3 linked regions of the Homo sapiens genome follow. The protein of the gene in region 1 purifies or fractionates together with the protein of each later gene. This does not show direct contact. Each region holds a gene or a part of one and is shown in the gene's direction. Other genes may lie near its edges.

Evidence for each region.
Region 2: the proteins of ABCG8 (region 1) and PTPRD purify together in Homo sapiens (affinity purification with mass spectrometry; 2 studies listed by BioGRID and IntAct, with this or other methods). This does not show direct contact.
Region 3: the proteins of ABCG8 (region 1) and NOTCH3 purify together in Homo sapiens (affinity purification with mass spectrometry; 2 studies listed by BioGRID and IntAct, with this or other methods). This does not show direct contact.

What each region holds. Positions count from the first base shown.
Region 1 is NC_000002.12:43,845,340-43,848,991, forward strand, and holds part of ABCG8 (ATP-binding cassette sub-family G member 8), read left to right. Parts: intron 1-815; coding exon 816-972; intron 973-3,652. UniProt on the Homo sapiens protein: ABCG5 and ABCG8 form an obligate heterodimer that mediates Mg(2+)- and ATP-dependent sterol transport across the cell membrane.
Region 2 is NC_000009.12:8,516,971-8,520,622, reverse strand, and holds part of PTPRD (receptor-type tyrosine-protein phosphatase delta isoform 1 precursor), read left to right. Parts: intron 1-2,193; coding exon 2,194-2,775; intron 2,776-3,652.
Region 3 is NC_000019.10:15,183,880-15,187,531, reverse strand, and holds part of NOTCH3 (neurogenic locus notch homolog protein 3 precursor), read left to right. Parts: intron 1-193; coding exon 194-427; intron 428-543; coding exon 544-654; intron 655-1,852; coding exon 1,853-2,045; intron 2,046-2,123; coding exon 2,124-2,275; intron 2,276-2,512; coding exon 2,513-2,626; intron 2,627-3,081; coding exon 3,082-3,237; intron 3,238-3,652. UniProt on the Homo sapiens protein: Functions as a receptor for membrane-bound ligands Jagged1, Jagged2 and Delta1 to regulate cell-fate determination.

The sequences.
Region 1 (3,652 bases):
CCAATGAGCCTTTCTCTGCTCTGCCACTTACCAGCTGTGTGACCTTGAGCAAGTTGCTTAACTGCCCTGAGCCTCATCTGTAAAACAAGGATTCTGAGCATATCTATGTTATAGATTTGCAGTGAGGATTGAATAAGGTGATGGATGTTAAGTGATTAACACAATGTCTTGCACATAGTAAACATCTGATAAATTATTAGTAAATTACTAGTATCAAGTGAAGACATTTTGCTTCGTGTTTTATTTTTATTTCTGTACCACTATTGCACATGATTTTCTTTTTTCCTTACTTTTTTTTTTGAGATGGAGTCTCATTCTGTCACCCAGGCTGGGATGCAGTGGTGCAATCTTGGCTGACTGCAATCTCTGCCTCCCAAATTCAAGTGATTCTCCTGCCTCAGCCTCCCAAGTAGCTGGGATTACAGGCAACCACCACCATGCCTGGCTAATTTTTGTATTTTTAGTAGAGGCGGGGTTTTACCATGTTGGCCAGGCTGGTCTCAAACTCCTGACCTCAGGTGATCCACCTGCCTCAGCCTTCCAAAGTGCTGAGATTACAGGCATGAGCCACCATGCCTGGCCTGTACATGCTTTTCATTCTTCTTATCTTCAGACCTAGAAACAGCAGCTACAGGTTCTCAGCATGGGTCCTGCTTCCGTGTTTGGTAGAACCTGGGTTGGGGCCTATTGTGTGTAGGTGAGGACATATCCTCTGTGGAGAGGGGCCACCTGGGGAACGAAGATGCTGAACAGAAGTTGCTGAAGCCCTCTGAACCATTCAGCTCTCTAAGGAACCTTCTGATATCTCCCCACAGGTGGACCTGGCCTCTCAGGTCCCTTGGTTTGAGCAGCTGGCTCAGTTCAAGATGCCCTGGACATCTCCCAGCTGCCAGAATTCTTGTGAGCTGGGCATCCAGAACCTAAGCTTCAAAGTGAGAAGTGGGCAGATGCTGGCCATCATAGGGAGCTCAGGTACCGGAAAGGCAAATCGCTGGGCAATGGTTTCTCTCCTGGGATACAGAATGGTCCTTTGGACAAATGGATGCTTCTTATGGAGCTCTTTGCTGACTAGTAGAATAATACAGCAGAATGGCTGAGAACACAGGTTCTGGGTCAGACAGACCTGGGCTCAAATCCTGGCTCCTCCATTTGCTGGCTTGAGGGTAGGTGCTGTTGTTAAGAGTCATGAGTGCGCCTCTTGTCCACCCGAGGCTGTGGCCAGAGCATCTGACTTTGGCTAACACCTGGACGGAGAGATCAGCAAACAGCTCCAGCATGTAATGTTCTTTTCAGACTCCTCCAGCCATGAGGGGCATTGGTTCAGGTTGTTCCTCCACAATCACATTCTGATTATGGCCAGACAGCCCCTGCCACACTCTCACCTCTCAGACAGCCTCTCCAGTGTCTTACTTAGCACAACTTTCACTCATCTGCAAAGAGCCAGGTTCTTGGAGTGCCTCAAATTGTCATTTCCATGGCCAAATTTAAAATGAGAGAATGTCTGAGCTGAAAGGGGGCTTGGGGAACAGAGGTCATTCTCATCATGTTCCACCTTTCTTTCTCCCTACCAGTTTGGAAGCATTTTCAGAGGAAGGTGTTCAAACTCCCTACTCCTCAGTGTGTCTAGAGTATCCTCCTGCACGCGCGCGTGCACACACACACACACACACACACACACACACACACTCCCCTCCATTTGACAGATGAGGAGACTCAAATCCAAAGAAATTGAGGGATTCTCGTAAGGACACATATTTAATGCAGAGCTAGAACTAGAACTTTGGTTTCATCATTCTCGGATCAAGACATTTCTCCCTGGGACACCCTTACATAGTGCTGGAGAGAGCATTTTATATCTTTTAATTAATCATTTCCAGAGGTAGAGATTACTCAATTTTTTAAACATTCTGCTCCAAACTTTTACACCCGTCTGGTAGATAAGTTCTGTTTACCGTATAACCAAAGATCAAATGAAATCTTATGTATAAATGCACTTTGTAACTGAAACAGCATCACAGTCATGAAGTCCCTCTCACTCTGTCCCTGTCCCTGCAATCCTGACCTAAATAAGAAAAAAGTAGATCCCGGCCAGGCACAGTGGCTCATACCTGTAATCCTAGCACTTTGGGAGGCCGAGGCGGGCAGATCACGAGGTCAGGAGATCGAGACCGTCCTGGCTATCACGGTGAAACCCCGTCTCTACTAAAAATACAAAAAATTAGCTGGGTGTCGTGGTGGGTGCCTGTAGTCCCAGCTACTTGGGAGGTTGAGGCAGGAGAATGGCGTGAACCTGGGAGGTGGAGCTTGCAGTGAGTCGAGATCGCGCCACTGCACTCCAGCCTGGGCAACAGAGCACGATCCCGTCTCTTAGAAAGGAATGAATAAATTACACTGAATAGTCTCCTGTTTTGTTTTTTTTGTTGTTGTTGTTTTGTTTTTTTGAGGCAGTCTCTCTCTGTTGCCTAGGCTGGATTGCAGTGGTGTGATCTCGGCTCACTGCAACCCGCTCCTCCTGGGTTCAAGCGAGTCTCATGTCTCAGCCTCCCAAGTAGCTGGGATTACAGGTGGGTGCCACTATGCCTGGCTCATTTTTTTTTGTATTTTTTGTAGAGATATGGTTTTGCCATGGTGGCCAGGCTGATCTCCAACTCCTGGCCTCAGGTGATCTGCTTGCCTTGGCCTCTCAAAGTGCTGGGATTACAGGCATGAGTCACTGCACCGAGCATCTCCTGGTTGTTTATAGATTCAGTGTTGTTTGGCTTCAGGTTTACTTGCCTGTGTAAAAAAAACAAAAACAAAAAACAAAACAACAACAAACAACTTTAGACAAATAAATAGTAGAGTTGTCTGAGCAAATAGTGATTAATGAATCTGGCAGCACTCAAAAACAGGACCAGTTCAGAGGCTCCCCCAAGCAATTTGGTCAGGCAGTATTTATAGACAGAAAAAGGAAGTGCCCTACAGAAATAGCTGATTGGTTACAGTTGGGTGTTCACCTTATTTATTTGAGGGTGATGTGATCAGGTGTTGGGTATGGACAGGAGCTCATCAGTCGGTAGCCTGTGATTGGCTGATGCTTGGCTGCCATGATTGGCTGAGACTCAGCAACTTGTCTCAGCCAGTCTCTGTCTTAAGAGAATATACTGCTAAGATAAGTTGCAGTTTGTTTACATACTAAGTTTGCTTGCAGTTTGCTCTGTGGGAACTCAAAGTATGCAGGCAGCCTCAGGCCAAATTTAGTTTAACTGAGCAGCTGAAATTATTAAAATGATTTATTAGAAAGGTTCATCAACTACACTTCCTGTGACTTTTACTGCCATCCCCCTCTCCCCCTGCCCAACATACACACAAAAGAACGCTGGCCATAATTTTTAAAATACAAAGAAAACAGCCAGGCTGGGCACGGTGGCTCATGCCTGTAATCCCAGCACTTTGGGAGGCTGAGGCAAGTGGATCACCTGAGGTCAGGAGTTCGAGACCAGCCTGGCCAACATGGTGAAACCCTGTCTCTACTAAAAAAAAAATACAAAAAATTAGCTGGGCGTGGTGGCACGTGCCTGTAATCCCAGCTACTTGGGAGGCTGATGTGGGAGAATCGCTTGAACCCTGGAGGTGGAGGTTGCAGTGAGCTGAGATTGCACCATTGCACTCC
Region 2 (3,652 bases), on another chromosome or scaffold:
TACCGTTTTTTTTTCCCCTAGTGTTTATAGAATTCTAGAAAGTGTTTGCAAATTGAGTCAGACATAGGGCAACTTAAGTTTTCTGCAGATGGCTAGAACTATTGCAAAATGAACACAAATTATCTTCTTTTCCTAGGCAATGTTGTAGGCATTTGGAATTCAGCAGCAAGTAAGAAGTACAAGTTTGCTACTCTTGAAAAGCTGCCATTCTAGGGGGTGATCTTAGAAAATGCAATACACGTTATAATTGGTATCGCATCTCTAACCAAGCGTATATATCAAATATATGCTATATAAAACTAATGACATGAGAACAAAGGTACACATTGTCAACATTTACAATCGTGAAATAATGTTATATTGTGTAACCTTAATATAATAAGCACACATGTATTTATCCGTACATTACAGACATAAAACCTGTACTGTACAATAAATGTGACTTAGTGAAACTAATAATGTCAGCTAAATATCAGTGAGCACAGCTTTAATTAGCAATATTTGTATTTGCTTTGAAAGTTCAGAAAGACATGTAGGGGAAATCTGGAGCACACACAGCCTTGAAAAATGCCAGGTCAGAATATTTAAACAAATTTCATTTTATTATTATTTTCAGTAAATTCCCTTGACAAAATACTATCATTCTGTAGTTCTTTGAGTAGTGTGTAAATATTGAATCACCTTTTTTATAATTACCATTTCAGCTTTAAATATTTGAAGGCTTGCTGAAGACCTTTAAGAATTCAAAAGCAGGGGCCACTTTAAACTAATATTTTGTTCACCTTCTCATCTTTGTTTTCCTGACTCTTGCCACTTCCCTGTCTTTTCCACCTCAAAAATAAACAAATAAAACATAAGAGTGAATCTTAATGGCAAATTAAAATAAATCAAAACAAAAGAACAGGTTGAAGAGAATGAGGTGAATGGGTGCTGACTCATTTATTCAGTTAACTGTTTAACGATTCTCATTAAAAACCTACCGAGTGCCAGGCAGCATTCTAGGCATTCACAATTTTACAGTAAGTCAGAAGTACAAGTTTGCTGCTCTTGAAAAGCTGCCATTCTAGGGGGTGTTATACTTCTTGCCTTTATGTTGGCAAGGAAACAGGGACACTAATGGGCTGATTATATGAATGTTACCCTTTGAGATTTCTCTAAAGAGTCAACTATTAGAATGCCCCTTCCTACCCTAATAGCACTGCGTTTCAGAATCATTGTTTAGAATAAGGCACTTGAATATGAGGTCAGCAAAGCAGACAGTTTATATTTTTAATTAGTAGTATTTTGATTTGTATTCTTCTGCTAAAAAGAAAGAATTAGACCTCTAAAAAGATGGATTTTATTGCAAATATTTGTCATGTAGCTACATTGGATATTTCTGATGTGGAATATAGAATGCATATTAATATGACCATAACATACCTTAAAAAGTGATTGGTGAATGTGCCTTAATTTACTTCCTTCAGCAATTTTTAAATATTAAGAATAAAGCATTGATTTGAAATTTCTATTCTTTTGCACCTTAAAATTTTTGGTTTTTCATTTACAAGAAAATTTTTAGTAATGGTATTGTGTCTTACCAGAATATAGATGTTATTGTTTCATCGCAATTTAATTTCATTTCAATGTATTCCACATTTTGTTCTTTTCAATGTTTATCGGTATTTCAGTTATACCATTTATTTATTGGGGCAAGGGGCTAATTGGCCAAGCTTTTGGTATAATAATAGTAATAACTGCAGCTAATACTAAGGTTTTTTTGTGGGTTCCAGTTACATTCTAAGAATCTTAGTGGATTGGCTCATTAGTCTTCACAGCAAACCCATGAAATACAGTTACATACAGCTGTATAATATGACTTAAATAATAATATTTTTCCCATTTCCACATGAGGAAACTAAAGCAAAGAGAGGTTAAGAAATGCGTGCAGGATCACTTAGCTAATAAGTAGAGGATTTGGATACAAGCCTAAAAATATGCTATCAAGCCCTTCTAGGAAAGCAGGATTTGTGTCACCTATGAATGTTTTCCTGTCCTTCTTGGCCATTCAGAAAACTACTCTTTGCTATAATTTCATTTAATTAAATCTTCAGTAGATACATAATCCTGTCATTTTCATAGTAGAGTTTATAGATTTTTGAAATATTATAGGGATGATGGGTAGTCATTGTCTTTTATCTTCCCCCATCCAAGCCTTACCCAAACCTCCAGGAACTCCTGTAGTGACCGAGAGCACAGCTACAAGCATCACACTGACGTGGGACTCTGGGAACCCTGAGCCTGTTTCTTATTACATAATTCAGCATAAACCTAAAAACTCTGAGGAACTTTACAAAGAAATTGATGGGGTGGCGACCACACGCTACAGTGTCGCTGGACTAAGTCCCTACTCGGATTATGAATTCAGGGTTGTTGCTGTCAATAACATTGGGCGGGGGCCTCCCAGCGAACCTGTGCTAACACAAACCTCAGAGCAAGCACCATCCAGTGCCCCGAGGGATGTCCAGGCACGAATGTTGAGTTCGACCACCATTTTGGTACAGTGGAAGGAACCTGAAGAGCCAAATGGACAGATCCAAGGATATAGAGTTTATTATACAATGGATCCCACTCAACATGTCAACAACTGGATGAAACACAATGTAGCTGACAGCCAAATCACTACTATTGGCAACTTAGTGCCCCAGAAAACATATTCTGTCAAAGTCCTGGCTTTTACCTCAATTGGAGATGGTCCCCTTTCAAGTGACATACAAGTCATCACTCAGACAGGAGGTAAGTTTGGTTGAGGAGGGAAATAGGGCAGGAGGGAAGGGCTGGTGCAAAGAGGTGAGAAGGACAAAAACAAAGAAGGAACAAAGATGGTATGAATTTTAATTTTTGAGATTTAGGGCTTCAAAGCAACAGATGATAGATATCTGAAAAGGAACAAGCATGGACATCTGAAAAACTAATCATTTTGAGCAGAACAATGCATTAACACCCCTTCTTTTTAATTTGTATGGGAATGACTTGAAGACTTCTCTATGTGAGATAGAACAATGTCTCCCCCATGCCCAGTTTTGAGAATAGAAAAACGACACTTCTTTGTAATAGCTAGTATGGTAGAGTGGTCTCAAAAGAGTATTTAATTTGTGTAAGATTGGATGGTTCAAGACAAAGCTAAAAAATAAAACTGTTACAGGGCCTTGGGTATTTAAATGGCTTATATTTGCCAGAAGCTACTGGCTTGAAAATAAGTATTCTCTGAGTGGCTTTAATTTCTGTTTTTCTCTGTATGGCCTCAGTGGATAAAGAGAGACAGTTACCGAGATCTCAGATAGAACATTGGGCCTGATTGATTAACTTTGCTAAGAGCTACAGCAGACATTAGACTATTTTATGAAGGAAAACTTGGCCCTCCCAGTGGTTTTATTTTTCTAAGAGGTTATCAAACCTCTTTGGTCTTTGAGTCAAGGTGATCAGTTTGGCTTTGGGCTAATATAAAATAACAGGCCTCTTCTAAAGTTTATTCTTGAGCCACGCACAGTGGCTCACGCCTGTAATCCCAACACTTTTGGGAGGTAGGTGGATCACTTGAGGGTCAGGACTTTGAGACCAGCCTGGCCAATGGCAAAACCTCATCTCTATTAAAAATACAAAAATTAGCTGG
Region 3 (3,652 bases), on another chromosome or scaffold:
GACAAATTCTGGAGCTTGTAGTGGGGTGGAGTGGAAGTAAGTGGGGGGTGGGGGGTGGGGCCTGTATTGAGCTCGCCTCCTGACAGCTTGATGGGCAGGGCCTCAGATAGAGCTGAACCAGGATTGGTCCGAGGCCTCACTTGTGGGCAGGCCCCTGGCAAGTGGGCGGAGCCTGACCCTCTTGGCCCCACAGGCTTTGAGGGCACGCTGTGTGATCGCAACGTGGACGACTGCTCCCCTGACCCATGCCACCATGGTCGCTGCGTGGATGGCATCGCCAGCTTCTCATGTGCCTGTGCTCCTGGCTACACGGGCACACGCTGCGAGAGCCAGGTGGACGAATGCCGCAGCCAGCCCTGCCGCCATGGCGGCAAATGCCTAGACCTGGTGGACAAGTACCTCTGCCGCTGCCCTTCTGGGACCACAGGTGGGACCGGGGGCTGGGGCAGAAACAGCACACCTGGAGGGGCACAGAGGGTTTGGGAATGGTGCATCTAGTGGGGCACAGTGGTGGCCACTCCATGCCATGTTCCTGGCCCCTAGGTGTGAACTGCGAAGTGAACATTGACGACTGTGCCAGCAACCCCTGCACCTTTGGAGTCTGCCGTGATGGCATCAACCGCTACGACTGTGTCTGCCAACCTGGCTTCACAGGTGGGCAAGTGGCTGCCATGAGAGGGGGTCCTTAGATCGAGGGTGAAGTCACTCGTCTCTGTGGGCCTGTTTTGCCCGTATCTTTGCAGACTCTTGTCCAACGAGGTTGTCCGTGCTTTGCCCTGAGTCTGTGCTGTCTCATTGGCATAAGGTTGTTTCGAGATTATTCTGCAGGCTGGGCGCGGTGGCTCACGCCTGTAATCCCAGCGCTCTGGGAGGCCAAGGCAAGTGGATCACTTGAGGTCAGGAGTTCGAGACCAGCGTGGCCAACGTTGCGAAGCCCCATCTCTACTAAAAATACAAAAATTAGTCGGGTGTGGTGGTGGGCGCCTGTAGTCCTAGCTACTCGGGAGGCTGAGGCAGGAGAATTGCTTGACCTCAGGAGGCGGAGGCGGCAGTGAGCCAAGATTGTGCCACTGTACTCCAGTCTGGGCGACAGAGTGAGACTTCATTTCAAACACACACACACACACACACACACACACACACACACACACATACAAAAACAAACAAAAAGATTATTCTGGAACATAGATGAAAGTGTCCAAACTCAGTGACTAGGTTATTTCTGAATGGGTCTAAACTAATCCTTAGTGGAAATGAATGTGACTTTGCTAGGTGTGTTGGCTCATGTCTGTAATCCCCCAGCACTTTGGGAGGCTGAGACATGAGGATCACTTGAGCCCAGGAGTTCGAGACTAGCCTGGGCAACATAATGAAACCCTGTCTCTACAAAAAATAAACACACTCCCAAAGCCAGATTAGTCAATACGTAGATAAACACGCACACACATGCACACACAATTAGCCAGACGTGGTGGTGCGCAACTGTAGTCCCAGCCACTCGGGAGGCTGAGGTGGGAGAATCGCTTGAGCCCAGGAAGTGGAGGCTGTGGTGAGCTATGATCATGCCACTGCAGTCCAGCCCGGGCGACAGAGTGAGACCCCATCTCAAAAAATAAGAAGAAGAAGAAAAGAAAAAGAAAGGGACTTCATGGAAGTTTGGGGACCAGAATGATCTGGGGCAAGTCAGCTCTTGGTTGAGGAGGCGGGTGTCCTAATCTGCACAAGAGCTGATGCGTTATGAAAAAGAGGTCATTGCTCGGGGGTGTGGGTGTGCTAAGTGGGGTCACGTCGTCCCTCCCTGGTTGTCCCTGCTGACTTTGTTCTGAGATGAGATTGCTTGTGTACTCCCCAGGGCCCCTTTGTAACGTGGAGATCAATGAGTGTGCTTCCAGCCCATGCGGCGAGGGAGGTTCCTGTGTGGATGGGGAAAATGGCTTCCGCTGCCTCTGCCCGCCTGGCTCCTTGCCCCCACTCTGCCTCCCCCCGAGCCATCCCTGTGCCCATGAGCCCTGCAGTCACGGCATCTGCTATGATGCACCTGGCGGGTGAGGGCCCTTCTCAGCCTCAGACACTGCCCCCTCTCCCTGGCCCACCTCCCTGGCCTGACTACCTTCCCCTGCCAGGTTCCGCTGTGTGTGTGAGCCTGGCTGGAGTGGCCCCCGCTGCAGCCAGAGCCTGGCCCGAGACGCCTGTGAGTCCCAGCCGTGCAGGGCCGGTGGGACATGCAGCAGCGATGGAATGGGTTTCCACTGCACCTGCCCGCCTGGTGTCCAGGGTGTGTACCTCACCTTCCCTCTGCAGCCCCACCAACACCATGGGCCTTCTCATCTCTCTTCTCCTCTACTCTCTCCTCCCGCTATGTTAGCTTCTTTTTTGCTTTCAATCATTTCCCTCCAGGAGCTTGGGAGGTGGGTATCAAGGTGGGGACCCTGGGGTTGGGGGAGGTGGGGGGAGATGGGATCAGGGAGTCCCTCAAGGCTATCTCTGCTTCCCTCTCTTCCACCCCCAACAGGACGTCAGTGTGAACTCCTCTCCCCCTGCACCCCGAACCCCTGTGAGCATGGGGGCCGCTGCGAGTCTGCCCCTGGCCAGCTGCCTGTCTGCTCCTGCCCCCAGGGCTGGCAAGGTATGCCACCTGCTTCTCTTCCCTCCTCCTCTCCATCTCCTCTGCCCCCTACCCTATCAGGGATGATGCTGGGGATCCAGAGAGGGACCCATCCCCAGCCCTGCCTTTGAGAGGGGCTTCCTTCTTGGAAGGACAGAGCTGGACACTGATATGCAGCCTGTGTGGGTCAGCCCTTGGAAGAGGAAGAGTTATGGGGCTAGAGATGCTGGGACTTAGGGCGGGGTTTAGGGTACAGCTTCCTGGAGGAGCAGACCTCATAGTAGGTATTTGCCACCTACTGAGACAGGGAGACGGCCATTCTGAAACTGCATATGCAAAATGCCCAGACACGAATGACAGCACGGCTTATTTTGCCTTCACCCATCTCGGCCTGCAGGTTCTTCCTGAGCCCCAGGTCCCTGAGACCCTGCTCTGTACCCTGTAACCCTAGGTGTAACCTTGCTCCCTACCCCCAGGCCCACGATGCCAGCAGGATGTGGACGAGTGTGCTGGCCCCGCACCCTGTGGCCCTCATGGTATCTGCACCAACCTGGCAGGGAGTTTCAGCTGCACCTGCCATGGAGGGTACACTGGCCCTTCCTGCGATCAGGACATCAATGACTGTGACCCCAGTGAGTGCAGGGGAGCTCTTGGGGGTGCTGCTCTGGGGAACACAGTCATTAAGCTTGAACTGTGTGCCTGGCACTGTGCTGTCATTTCATCTTCACAGTTATCTTACTTTTCCCGTTTTATTTATATGGAAACTGAGGCCCGAGGAGGTTGAGTGACTTCTTGTGCAAGCCCATGGAACGAGTTAGGGAATGAGCTGGGCTTAGAACCTTGGAGTCTGTGTGCTGCCTCTTTTTTTTTTTTTTTTTTTTTTTTTTTTGAGACAGAGTCTTAGCTCTGTCGCTGGAGTGCAGTGTTGCAATCATCGCTCACTGCAACCTCTGCCTTCTGGGCTCAAGCACCTCAGCCTCCCCAGTGGCTGCGACTATAGGCGCACACCACAGCGCCCAGCTAATATTTTGTGTTTTTTGTAGAGAC